Linked DNA regions of Homo sapiens. The protein of the gene in region 1 purifies or fractionates together with the protein of each later gene. This does not show direct contact. Each region holds a gene or a part of one and is shown on either strand. Other genes may lie near its edges.

Region 1 (4,432 bases):
AGGCAGGTAAGCTTGAGAATTTCCCAAGGATAAAAGCAATGAATTCAGTCAACCATAGATTTGAAATGCTTCACTAAGAAATGAAATGGAAGGATCCCTACATTTCTTTTTCCTCCCATCAAAATGGTATTGACAAGAGACCATAAACCTTGGGCGAATGGAACAAAAGGGAACTATTTGCACTCACACTAAATGGATCACACGTGAAATATTTAGTTCCCAGTTTTAAGAAGTCAATATAAACCACACAGAGAGAAAATTCTTTGTCTCCAGGCCTCCTTTTCAAAACAATCCCAGCAGGTATTGCACAATTGCAGACAATACTGTCCTAATGCATTAGAGCCTAAGTCCCCTAAACGCATTCAAGTTAAGAGGGCTCAAGCCTACAAATGTTTATTCAGCACCTGCTTCTCTGTCTCCAGGACATCCTACTTGTATTCCCAGGGCCATCCTACTTGTACTCCCAGGGCCTCCTCCTCCTTAAATGTTTAGCAAGTAGGTGAATGTTGTATGTCCATGTGAAAGATACTGGCATTCCTAGGGTGCTTAGCAGAGTTGCAGTCACATAGTAGGTATCCAACAAATGAGTAAATATGAAGGAAAACATAGAAACTGCCTTCAAGAGGTCATGGGCTAAACTAGGGCTGGGAAAAGCACTTGGTCCTGTGCACTTCCTTGGAAACAGAAGTGAGCCAAGGCTTGAGGGAGGCACGAAGGAGTTCAGAACCACTGAAGGGAGCCTCTAGTTCTTACTTGTAATGCTTTCCCCTTCAGTGCACCACACAACACAACAGGACCAGTCCCCTATCAGGGCCACCACTCTACCGGGCTGGGGAGGAAAGCCCTTCGCAGTCCTGCGGGAACAGGAGGCACTCCCACATTGCTCCACTTCTCTGTATTCCAGTTTAATTAATTTTTATATTTTGAATAAAATTACACCCACTCTCTTCCATTATGGTGAACACTTAAAATTACATTTATAGAAAATTACATTTACACAAACTTGTTTAAAAGCCAAATCCCAGACCTAGGCTATTGGCCAAATTCCATTTAAAGGGGATATTAAGTAAATTAGTTGAGCTGATTAAAAACACCTTCATCAAAGTAGAGCATTGGTGCCAACAATATTAAGAGTTGAACTATTGATTACATTTTTTTTTCCACAGCAGATAATACATTAGCAGGGAGGAAAAGTGATTACTGCTCGCTTCCACTTCACAGGTAGAACTACTGATGGGGGTGACGCGGTAAGGTGGGAGGGCATGAAGGCAGGGGACGCGGCCTAGGTCAGGAGGGACGCAGAGGAGAAAGGAAGAGGAGGGGTGGAGGCTGGTGGCTGGAGGGGGCAGAGGTCAGACGCCTCGAAGGAGGGCGCCGTGAGGGCAGAGCCGCGGCCACCTCTACCGCAGCAGCCCGTCGGGCCGGACACCAGCCGCAGCCGCCAGCCCGGCAGACGCTGGAAGCGCGCACAGGGGTGCTCCCGCTCCCGGCCGCCAGAGGGCGCGGCCGGCGATGGCGCGGCGGAGACGGAGGGAGGAGGGGAGCCGGCAGAGAAGGGTCAGCCGCGGCGGCAGGGCGGCGGCGGCAGCGGCGCAGCTCCGCTCCCCGCGCGTCTCCCTTCCCCGCGCCCAGGTAGGGCGCTCAGCCTCCGCCGCCAGGATGCGGCCGCCCGCCTGCTGGTGGCTGCTCGCGCCGCCGGCGCTGCTCGCGCTCCTCACCTGCTCCCTGGGTAAGTAGCGGGCGGCCAGGCGCGCAAGGGCGAGGCGTGGGGTTCGCGGGCACAGTCGCCCGTGCCCCGGTCGGCGCGGGGAGGGAGGCGCAGGGCGGCCCAGCCCTGCCCCGCCGGCGCGCGCGTCCCGCCGTCCGGTCCCCGCCGCGCCGCGCCGTCAGCAGCGCCCTCTCGCGGCGCCCAGGTGGGACCCGGGCCCGGGACCCGAGGCGTGCCCGCTCGGCCCCTTTCGGTCTTGGGTCCCCGCTGCCGCCCCGGCCCCAGACTCGCGTCTCCCAGCCTCTGCCGCCCCGAACCGGCGGGCGACGGGGCGGCGAGGGCGCAGCAGCCGCCCCCACAGGAAGCGCGCAGGAACTGTGCCACCGAAGAAACTTTGCAACAGCGCGAGTGGCGGCGGCGGCGGTCCCGCCCCCCTGCCTTCCGCCCGCGCTCCGCCGTCCTGCGCGCCCCGCGCCGGGCGGGAGGCTGGACGGGAGCCGGCGAGGCGGCCCTCGAGGCCCCGCGGCTCCTGTTCGACCCCCGGGGGCGAGGACTGCGGTCCCGGTGTCCGCGCGCCCCTCCGCAGGGCCTTCGGGACGTGCCCTGGCCCCTGAGGATAAGCGGCCAGCTCGGCGCCAGCCCTTCCCGGATTCCGACCCGGAGGAGGACAGGGGCGCCCGCTGGGCCTCCGCGGGAGCTGGCGCGGCGGGGAGGCTTGCTCCTGTCTCGGGTCTCCGCTGGGGACATCAGGGGACACGTCTGCGAGCAGAGCAGTGCTTGCCCGGTCTCCTGCTGCTGTAATGCCCATTCTTTTTTATTTCTTTTCTCCTCGCAAGGGCATTTCCCCCCTTTATCTTAAAACGATGTGATAAAAGTTAAAAAAAAAAAAAAAGCAGCCTTGTAATTGACTTTCATGATCAGATTTGTTCAACTTTGAAAGCTTGAGCGAAAAATTATTTTTTTTTCAGACTGCTACAGAGTTTTTGTCCTCTAACCCAGACTTGCTGGTGTGAAAAGGCAATGATTTCAGATTTTTTAGTAATGGCAGAATGGTGCAGTTTAGGAAAAGACGTAGCGTTATTGCGCACTGCTCTTGTTAGCCCACCGGAACCTTGACAGCCTGTTTTTATTTGTATTTAAGCTCTCTGAATAAGGATTAATTTGCTGCATTTGTGTACTTCTGGCATTTCTATAGGCGCTCAGTAAGTGTGGGAAAAGAGCAAGATTAGTTGGTAATTGTTTACATGCATGATTAATTAGGCAGCAGTGTAATTAAAAATATTAGGGCACCTCCGGCAGAGAAGGCTGTAGTTGGTCTTGGGGAGCGACTGAATTTGGCTGGAATCGGCTTCAGTGGAAGAAGGGCATTGCTGGGTGGCAGCCCTGGGAGAAAGGGAGGTTGGAGGTTTGGGAAAGCGACTGGGTGACTCCTGGCTGCATCAGTTGGCTTGTTGCCTGGATGTTTTGCAACTAACCAAATGGGTGGGTGGTAGCTGAAATTGGTATTCTATTTATAGCACTGCACTTTATAATGCTGTACTGGGGGTATAATATTTGTATATAATATATACAACATATGGGCTGAAATGCACATTTGTATTGCTGTGTCTATTTTTTATTACCCCCAGGGGAATATTTGCACTGTCCAAATTTGATAATACACTGAAGGACATTCAGAATGCACTAAGATGTCAACACATTTTTAGAGATGTCTATTAGCCTTGTGAAGTTGTCAGATAAGCACAATAAATAAGACATAAAATGCATTAAAAGGTCCCTGTGAGACATTTGGCCTTTGGGAACTGGCTTTCATGGGTTGGCACAGACGGGAGGCTGTATTCTTCGAGGTCTGAAGTGAATCATGAATACCTTTTATGGAGCTCTGCTTCGATTTAGGGGAAGGGCACCGACACGTATAAAGATGTCCCCACTTACGATGTTCTTGGAATCTTGCTGAAACAGAATGTGACAGGCGTTCTGTCACATGTGAACAATCTTGATAGTTTATAAATACCTTAAATATTCCCATATAAGATTGGCCTGACTATATAGTTTAGTTTCCCCACAAACTAGAGCATATTTGTTTATATTTTTAGAGAAAAGTCAATATAGAAAATTTCTTTTAAACCCACATGCATATACAGACACGGTTCACTGCAACTTTGGTTCTAAAGTCTGGCACCAGTTTCAGAATGAGAAGATTGAGTCAGGCCTCCAGGTTACCATTTGTTAGCTGTGTGGCTTTTAGTGGCTTTGAGCTTCAGTTTTCTCATATGAACAGGGCGAATGGACTGGATAGAATACTAGCACTTTGCCACCTCTTACAGTTTTAACATACTGATCCCGTTGTAGCAGAGATTGACAGCCACCTGCGAAGTAACCCTTTAGCCCTTGTTTTCCTAACAAAACTAATATAATCTGGGTTGGGGGGAAGGATGGTGGGGTGGTGGTGGCAGCGGTGGCAGCAGCACTGTGAGACATTTCTCAGTGGCCTTTGCATATAGGGGCAGCTAGTGCTCTACAGAGATATCTTTAGAGATTGTTTGGTGGGGCTCCTGGTAAAGCTCATTCAAGGTGGCTGACTCAGCTGGGATGCAGGCCTTTTTGCTCTGTGTTATCCTCCTTCCCATTGCCTATTAAGTGGATCTGAGGGATGGAGCCATGGTGGCCATCTTGTGACCATGAGGTGACCTTGAAGATGGAAGCCAGTAGTAAGGATGGTAG
Region 2 (3,346 bases), on another chromosome or scaffold:
TTTCACCATGTTGGCCAGGTTGGACTCGAACTCCTGACCTCAAGTGATCCACCTGCCTCAGCCTCCCAAAGTCTCACATTTCATCTTAAAAAGTCCCCTGAATTCTGCACATCTTACTCCATCACATTTCTTTAGTATGAAAATGTTTCCTTCCACAAATCTTTGCAGAAACGGATGCTCTAGAAAGCGATGCCAAGTTTATCCTGTGGCTTCCCTGTCCCCCATCACCAGCCCACTTTTGTGCAGCTTCTGGGGGCACCCATACCCTAGTTTCAGAAGCAGGAATTGAGAGGTACAATCTATACCTCTCTTAGCACCAAATCAAACTCCAGGCACCCCGGCATGCAGGCAGGCCCATCAGAGCCTGGCCCATCACGGTCCTAAGGTTCAGGCTGCAGAAGCAGATGCCTGCGGGGAGGGCAGAGCAGTGAGGGGTCCAGCAGTCTCCAGCAGACCCAGCCACTCTGCTCACACCCTCTGCCCTGGGTCCTCCCCTGCCCCAGGAAGCAGCATCCCTACCATTCCAGACTAGACTGTTATAAATCCTCTTTAATAGTCTTAGAATCTTGAGTGTGTTTTACAGAATGGTGCACACAAAGCCCCCTCCCCTCTCCCCCTACAAGGCACAGCCTCACCCACCCCACTCCCCAGGGGCCAGAGGACCGCTTGCCAAGAAAGGCCAGCCCACCTTCTCCCAGGAGAAGCCATCCTCCTCCTCCCCGCCCCTGGCCAGCTCCGGACCCTGGAGAATACAGGACCAGCTCTGTGCCATGCCCCCAAGGACTCACCTGTCCCTAAGCAGCTCAGGGCCAAGCCAGATCCCCTTACCCAGGCAGACCCCCTCCAGCCCAGCTCCCCTAGGCCGTGTCCCTAGGGCATGGCCTAGGCTAATCTGAGCTGTCTAGATGGACCTGCATCAGGCCTGGGGAAGGGGTGCCACCCCTTAATATCAGGTAAAACCCACCCTCTCCCCTCTCCCACTGCCTTCAATATAATTGTGAAAAATAAAGATATAAATGTCATAGTGGGAAATAAGTTGACCCACCCAGTAGGCAGTCTCCTGACAGCCCAGAGTGCCTTATCTAACGCCCTTCCCTCCCCAATTTTTTTTTTTTTTTTTTTTTTTTTTGAGACGGAGTCTCTTTCTGTCCCCCAGGCTGGAGTGCAGTAGCACGATCTCAGCTCACTGCAACCTCCGCTCCCGGGTTCACACCATTCTCCTGCCTCAGCCTCCCAAGTAGCTGGGACTACAGGTGCCCGCCACCGCGCCCGGCTAAATTTTTTTTGTATTTTTAGTAGAGACGGGGTTTCACCATGTTAGCCAGGATGGTCTCGATCTCCTGACCTCGTGATCCACCCGCCTCGGCCTCCCAAAGTGCTGGGATTACAGGCGTGAGCCACCGCGCCCGGCCCCCTCCTCCCCAATTTTTCATACAGTTGCCCCTATACAATATACACACCCTTGAGGGCAGGTAGAAGTCCAGCCCACCTGCGCCAGGGACGCTGTGGGGAGCATTTTTCTCTGAGTTGCTAAGAGAACCCTGATGGGCGGTGAGCAGAGGAACCACAGAACAGCCAGGGCTCAAGGCTGGCAGCGGATAGGCCAGGAGAGATCGCTAGGCCCCAGAAAGCCCCCTACTTTCAGTCAGGATGGGCAAGAGGGTCTTCGCAGTGAAGTGGGAGGCAGGCCTGGAGGAGGGAGCCAGGGAGACCCCTGGGAGCCCTGAGGTTGGGGGCCAGGCAGGGAGATGGGGATAGCAGCTGCCTCAGTACTTGGGGACCTTGCTGTAGTCTTCGGAATGGACGTGCCGGCACAAGCAGATGGACAGGACCATCCCCAGGAGCTGTGGGGAGAGGCGGAGAGTCAGAGGGAGGCTGGGTGTCCCGGCCTCAGACGCCCCAGCCTCACCATCCAGGTTTACATGGGGATTAAGTGGATCCTCAACTTGAGCCTCACAACCACCCTGTGATGCAGGCAGCAGAGGGAGGCCCAGAGCGGGGCAGTGCCTTGTCTGAGGTCACACAGCCAGACAGTGCTCAGACCAGAGGGCCTCTGGAAGCTGATGGGGTGCTGGCCCCCTTGGCCACCACCTCCCCAAGGAGATCAGCAGAACAGAGACAACCCAGGAGGACCTGGGATGGAGAAGGGATGGGGGAGGGGGCTCAGACCTCGATGATGGCCACACCCACGCCCACGCCGAGGATGATGCCCAGGTTCTCCTGCAGCCACGCCTGCACCTTCTCCATGCAGCCCTGCAAGGGCAGAATGCGGTCACATCACCCCGCTCTGCACCATCCCACCCCGCCATGCAGAACCACCGAGAGCCCCCCAGTCCCAGCCCGGAAGCCCCTACAGAGGGCTCTGCCTGTTCCTTGAATAAATACATTAACAAAGAAGTAGATGAAGGTACAAATGACAGATGAATTAAGGGAAGGAACTAAATGCAGGAAGGAATTGCTGAGCAGTAGCCCAGATGGCCCCCAACGCCCTCGGAGCCCCGCCCCCGATCCGCAGCCCCCCGCACACCTCCTGGTACACAGGCCAGTCCTCAGGGTGGTTGCCACTCTGGGTCCTGTTGCCGGGGGCCTCGCAGAAGCCCTTCCTCACAGAAAGGCTGTTGTCCTCTTCCCCCTTGACTTCGCAGGAACAGGGGTAGGTGACCTCAGGGCGATTCATGAGCTCAGCGTTGTCTGTCCAGTTGTAGAAGCTGACCCAGCCGCAGCACTTCACCTGGGCAAGGCAGGGGACAGACTGCTTGTGCTCACGGCTCACCCTAGGCAGGCTGCCCTCCTGGCAGAGGGAGGACCTCCCCAGGACAGAGACTGAGATATGCCACTTCCAGGCCCCTGGTCCCAGCCGAACCATCATAAACTACAAGTACAGCAGAAAAATCAAAACCAGGACCAGCAAAAATACAAAGCAGAGTAGGAAGGAAGTTCAAGTTGAAGGAGCGCAGGTGTGCAGGGCACAAGGAGAATGGACGGCAGACAGTTCACAGTGCAGGGTTTAAAGTCAGGCTACTGGGTTACAATCCCAGCCCTGCCGCCTACCAGCTGAGCAACCTCCATCAAGGAACTAGCCTCAGTTTCCTCATCTGTAAATGGGGATAATTAAAATCCCCAACTCACAGGGCTATCACAAGGACTAAATGGGATGAGGCAGGCAAAGTACCAAGCATAGGTGTGGGGAGCACAATAAGCTTAGGAAAGGCCGTTCAACTTTAGTGCAGGAGTTGAGATTTGCCTCTGAGCTTCCTGGTGAAAAGGAAAAAAAGTGAAAAGTGAAAAAGGAGACGGGGTCAATTCCGCCTTTTTTTTTTTTTTTTTTTTTTCTGAGACAGAGTCT
Region 3 (2,366 bases), on another chromosome or scaffold:
CACGCCACTGCACTCCAACCTGGCGACAGAGCAAGACTCCGTCTTAAAGAAAAAATAAATAAATAAATAAATTAGCTGGCTATGGTGGTGTGTGCCTGTAGTCCCAGCTACTCGGGAGGCTGAGACAGGAGAATCACTTAAACCTGGGAGGCGGAGGTTGCAGTGAGCCAGGATCGCACACCACTTCACTCCAGCCTGGGTGACAGAGTGAGACTCCATCTCAAAAAACAATAAAAATAAAATCACTCAAATTTCTAGCTTGGGCATCAGGACCAATGATGTTATTCATTTGACATAAGAGATGGGGATAAGCTTGGGATAGGAGGCCGGAAGTGGTGGCTCAAGCCTGTAATCCCAGCACTTTGAGAGGCCGAGGCCTGCGGATCACCTGAGGTCGAGAGTTCGAGATCAGCCTGGCCAACATGGAGAAACCCCGTCTCTACTAAAAATACAAAATTAGCTGGGCGTGGTAGCACTTGCCTGTAATCCCAGCTACTTGGGAGGCTGAAGCAGGAGAATCCCTTAAACTCGGGGGGTGGAGGCTATGGTGAGCCGAGATCACGCCATTGCACTCCAGCCTGGGCAACAAGAGTGAAACTGTCTCAAAAAAGAAACAAAGAAAACGAAAAAAACAAGCTTGGGGTAGGAAGAGGGTGAATTCAAGCTAAGGATTTCCTTGGGGAGAGGGTGAACAGCCAGGGTATGGGTCAGGGACCAGAGGTAAAGCATCTTACTCAGGTGTCTGCATTGCAGTTGGTAGGACCCCAGGAATGATTTGCTAAATGGTTATTGAACTGACAAGGTCCTCCCTGTGTTGTAGCAAGGACCAGACTGGCTTGAGCTCTCTGAGATGACCGAGCAGCCAGACTATGACCTGGAGACCTTTGTGAACAAAGCGGAATCTGCTCTGGCCCAGCAAGCCAAGCATTTCTCAGCCCTGCGAGGTGGGTGTGGCTGGATGGGGTGCAGGTGGACGATGGTGGCCTCTGCTGGCTCTTGGGCAGCTGCAGGTGATGGCAGCTCTGCCCTGAGTGAATGGGGGCTCCTCAGACTCTCACTAACCCCATATGTACCGCTACCCTTTCTTCCAGATGTCATCAAGGCCTTGCGCCTGGCCATGCAGCTGGAAGAGCAGGCTAGCAGACAAATAAGCAGCAAGAAACGGCCCCAGTGACGACTGCAAATAAAAATCTGTTTGGTTTGACACCCAGCCTCTTCCCTGGCCCTCCCCAGAGAACTTTGGGTACCTGGTGGGTCTAGGCAGGGTCTGAGCTGGGACAGGTTCTGGTAAATGCCAAGTATGGGGGCATCTGGGCCCAGGGCAGCTGGGGAGGGGGTCAGAGTGACATGGGACACTCCTTTTCTGTTCCTCAGTTGTCGCCCTCACGAGAGGAAGGAGCTCTTAGTTACCCTTTTGTGTTGCCCTTCTTTCCATCAAGGGGAATGTTCTCAGCATAGAGCTTTCTCCGCAGCATCCTGCCTGCGTGGACTGGCTGCTAATGGAGAGCTCCCTGGGGTTGTCCTGGCTCTGGGGAGAGAGACGGAGCCTTTAGTACAGCTATCTGCTGGCTCTAAACCTTCTACGCCTTTGGGCCGAGCACTGAATGTCTTGTACTTTAAAAAAATGTTTCTGAGACCTCTTTCTACTTTACTGTCTCCCTAGAGATCCTAGAGGATCCCTACTGTTTTCTGTTTTATGTGTTTATACATTGTATGTAACAATAAAGAGAAAAAATAAATCAGCTGTTTAAGTGTGTGGAAAGGGCCTGGGATGTGTCTGAGCCTTTTGGGACTAAGGACATGACTGTACCTTTGGCCTCTGGGTAGTACTGATTCTGTACTCCTTCCAGGAGGCCATATCCACACCTACAATTCCAATGACAAGCTGAAGACTCCTGTGACTTGTTTGATGTCTATGAGATGCTTACTAGGCCTGGGAACAGAAACTCTTAAGTAGAAGGAAGATGGCCGCCGGGCACGGTGGCCCACGCCTATAATCCCAGCACTTTGGAAGGCCAAGGCGGGCAGATCGCAAGGTCAGGAATTCAAGACCAGCCTGGCCAACATGGTGAAACCCCATCTCTACTAAAAATACAAAAATTAGCTGGGCATGGTACATGGTGGCACGCACCTATAGTTCTAGCTACTCAGGAGGCTGAGGCAGGAGAATTGCTTGAACCCGGGAGGCGGAGGCGGCAGTGAGCCGAGACTGTGCCACAGCACTCCAGCCTGGGAGACAGAGTAAGGCTGTCTCAAAAAAAAAGGCCAGGTGTAGTGGCTAACACCTGTAATCCCAGCACTTTGGGAGGCCGAGGCAGGTGGATCACCTGAGGTCAGGAATTGGAGACCAACATGGTGAAACCCCG

The links.
Region 2: the proteins of B3GLCT (region 1) and CD82 fractionate together in Homo sapiens (co-fractionation; one large-scale study listed by BioGRID). This does not show direct contact.
Region 3: the proteins of B3GLCT (region 1) and KIF2C fractionate together in Homo sapiens (co-fractionation; one large-scale study listed by BioGRID). This does not show direct contact.

What each region holds. Positions count from the first base shown.
Region 1 is NC_000013.11:31,198,426-31,202,857, forward strand, and holds the start of B3GLCT (beta-1,3-glucosyltransferase precursor), read left to right. Parts: upstream 1-1,549; 5' UTR 1,550-1,659; coding exon 1,660-1,729; intron 1,730-4,432. UniProt on the Homo sapiens protein: O-glucosyltransferase that transfers glucose toward fucose with a beta-1,3 linkage. Specifically glucosylates O-linked fucosylglycan on TSP type-1 domains of proteins, thereby contributing to elongation of O-fucosylglycan.
Region 2 is NC_000011.10:44,617,547-44,620,892, reverse strand, and holds the end of CD82 (CD82 antigen), read right to left. Parts: intron 2,732-3,346; coding exon 2,528-2,731; intron 2,254-2,527; coding exon 2,170-2,253; intron 1,845-2,169; coding exon 1,767-1,844; 3' UTR 535-1,766; downstream 1-534. UniProt on the Homo sapiens protein: Structural component of specialized membrane microdomains known as tetraspanin-enriched microdomains (TERMs), which act as platforms for receptor clustering and signaling.
Region 3 is NC_000001.11:44,766,006-44,768,371, forward strand, and holds the end of KIF2C (kinesin-like protein KIF2C), read left to right. Parts: intron 1-820; coding exon 821-944; intron 945-1,091; coding exon 1,092-1,174; 3' UTR 1,175-1,762; downstream 1,763-2,366. UniProt on the Homo sapiens protein: In complex with KIF18B, constitutes the major microtubule plus-end depolymerizing activity in mitotic cells. Regulates the turnover of microtubules at the kinetochore and functions in chromosome segregation during mitosis.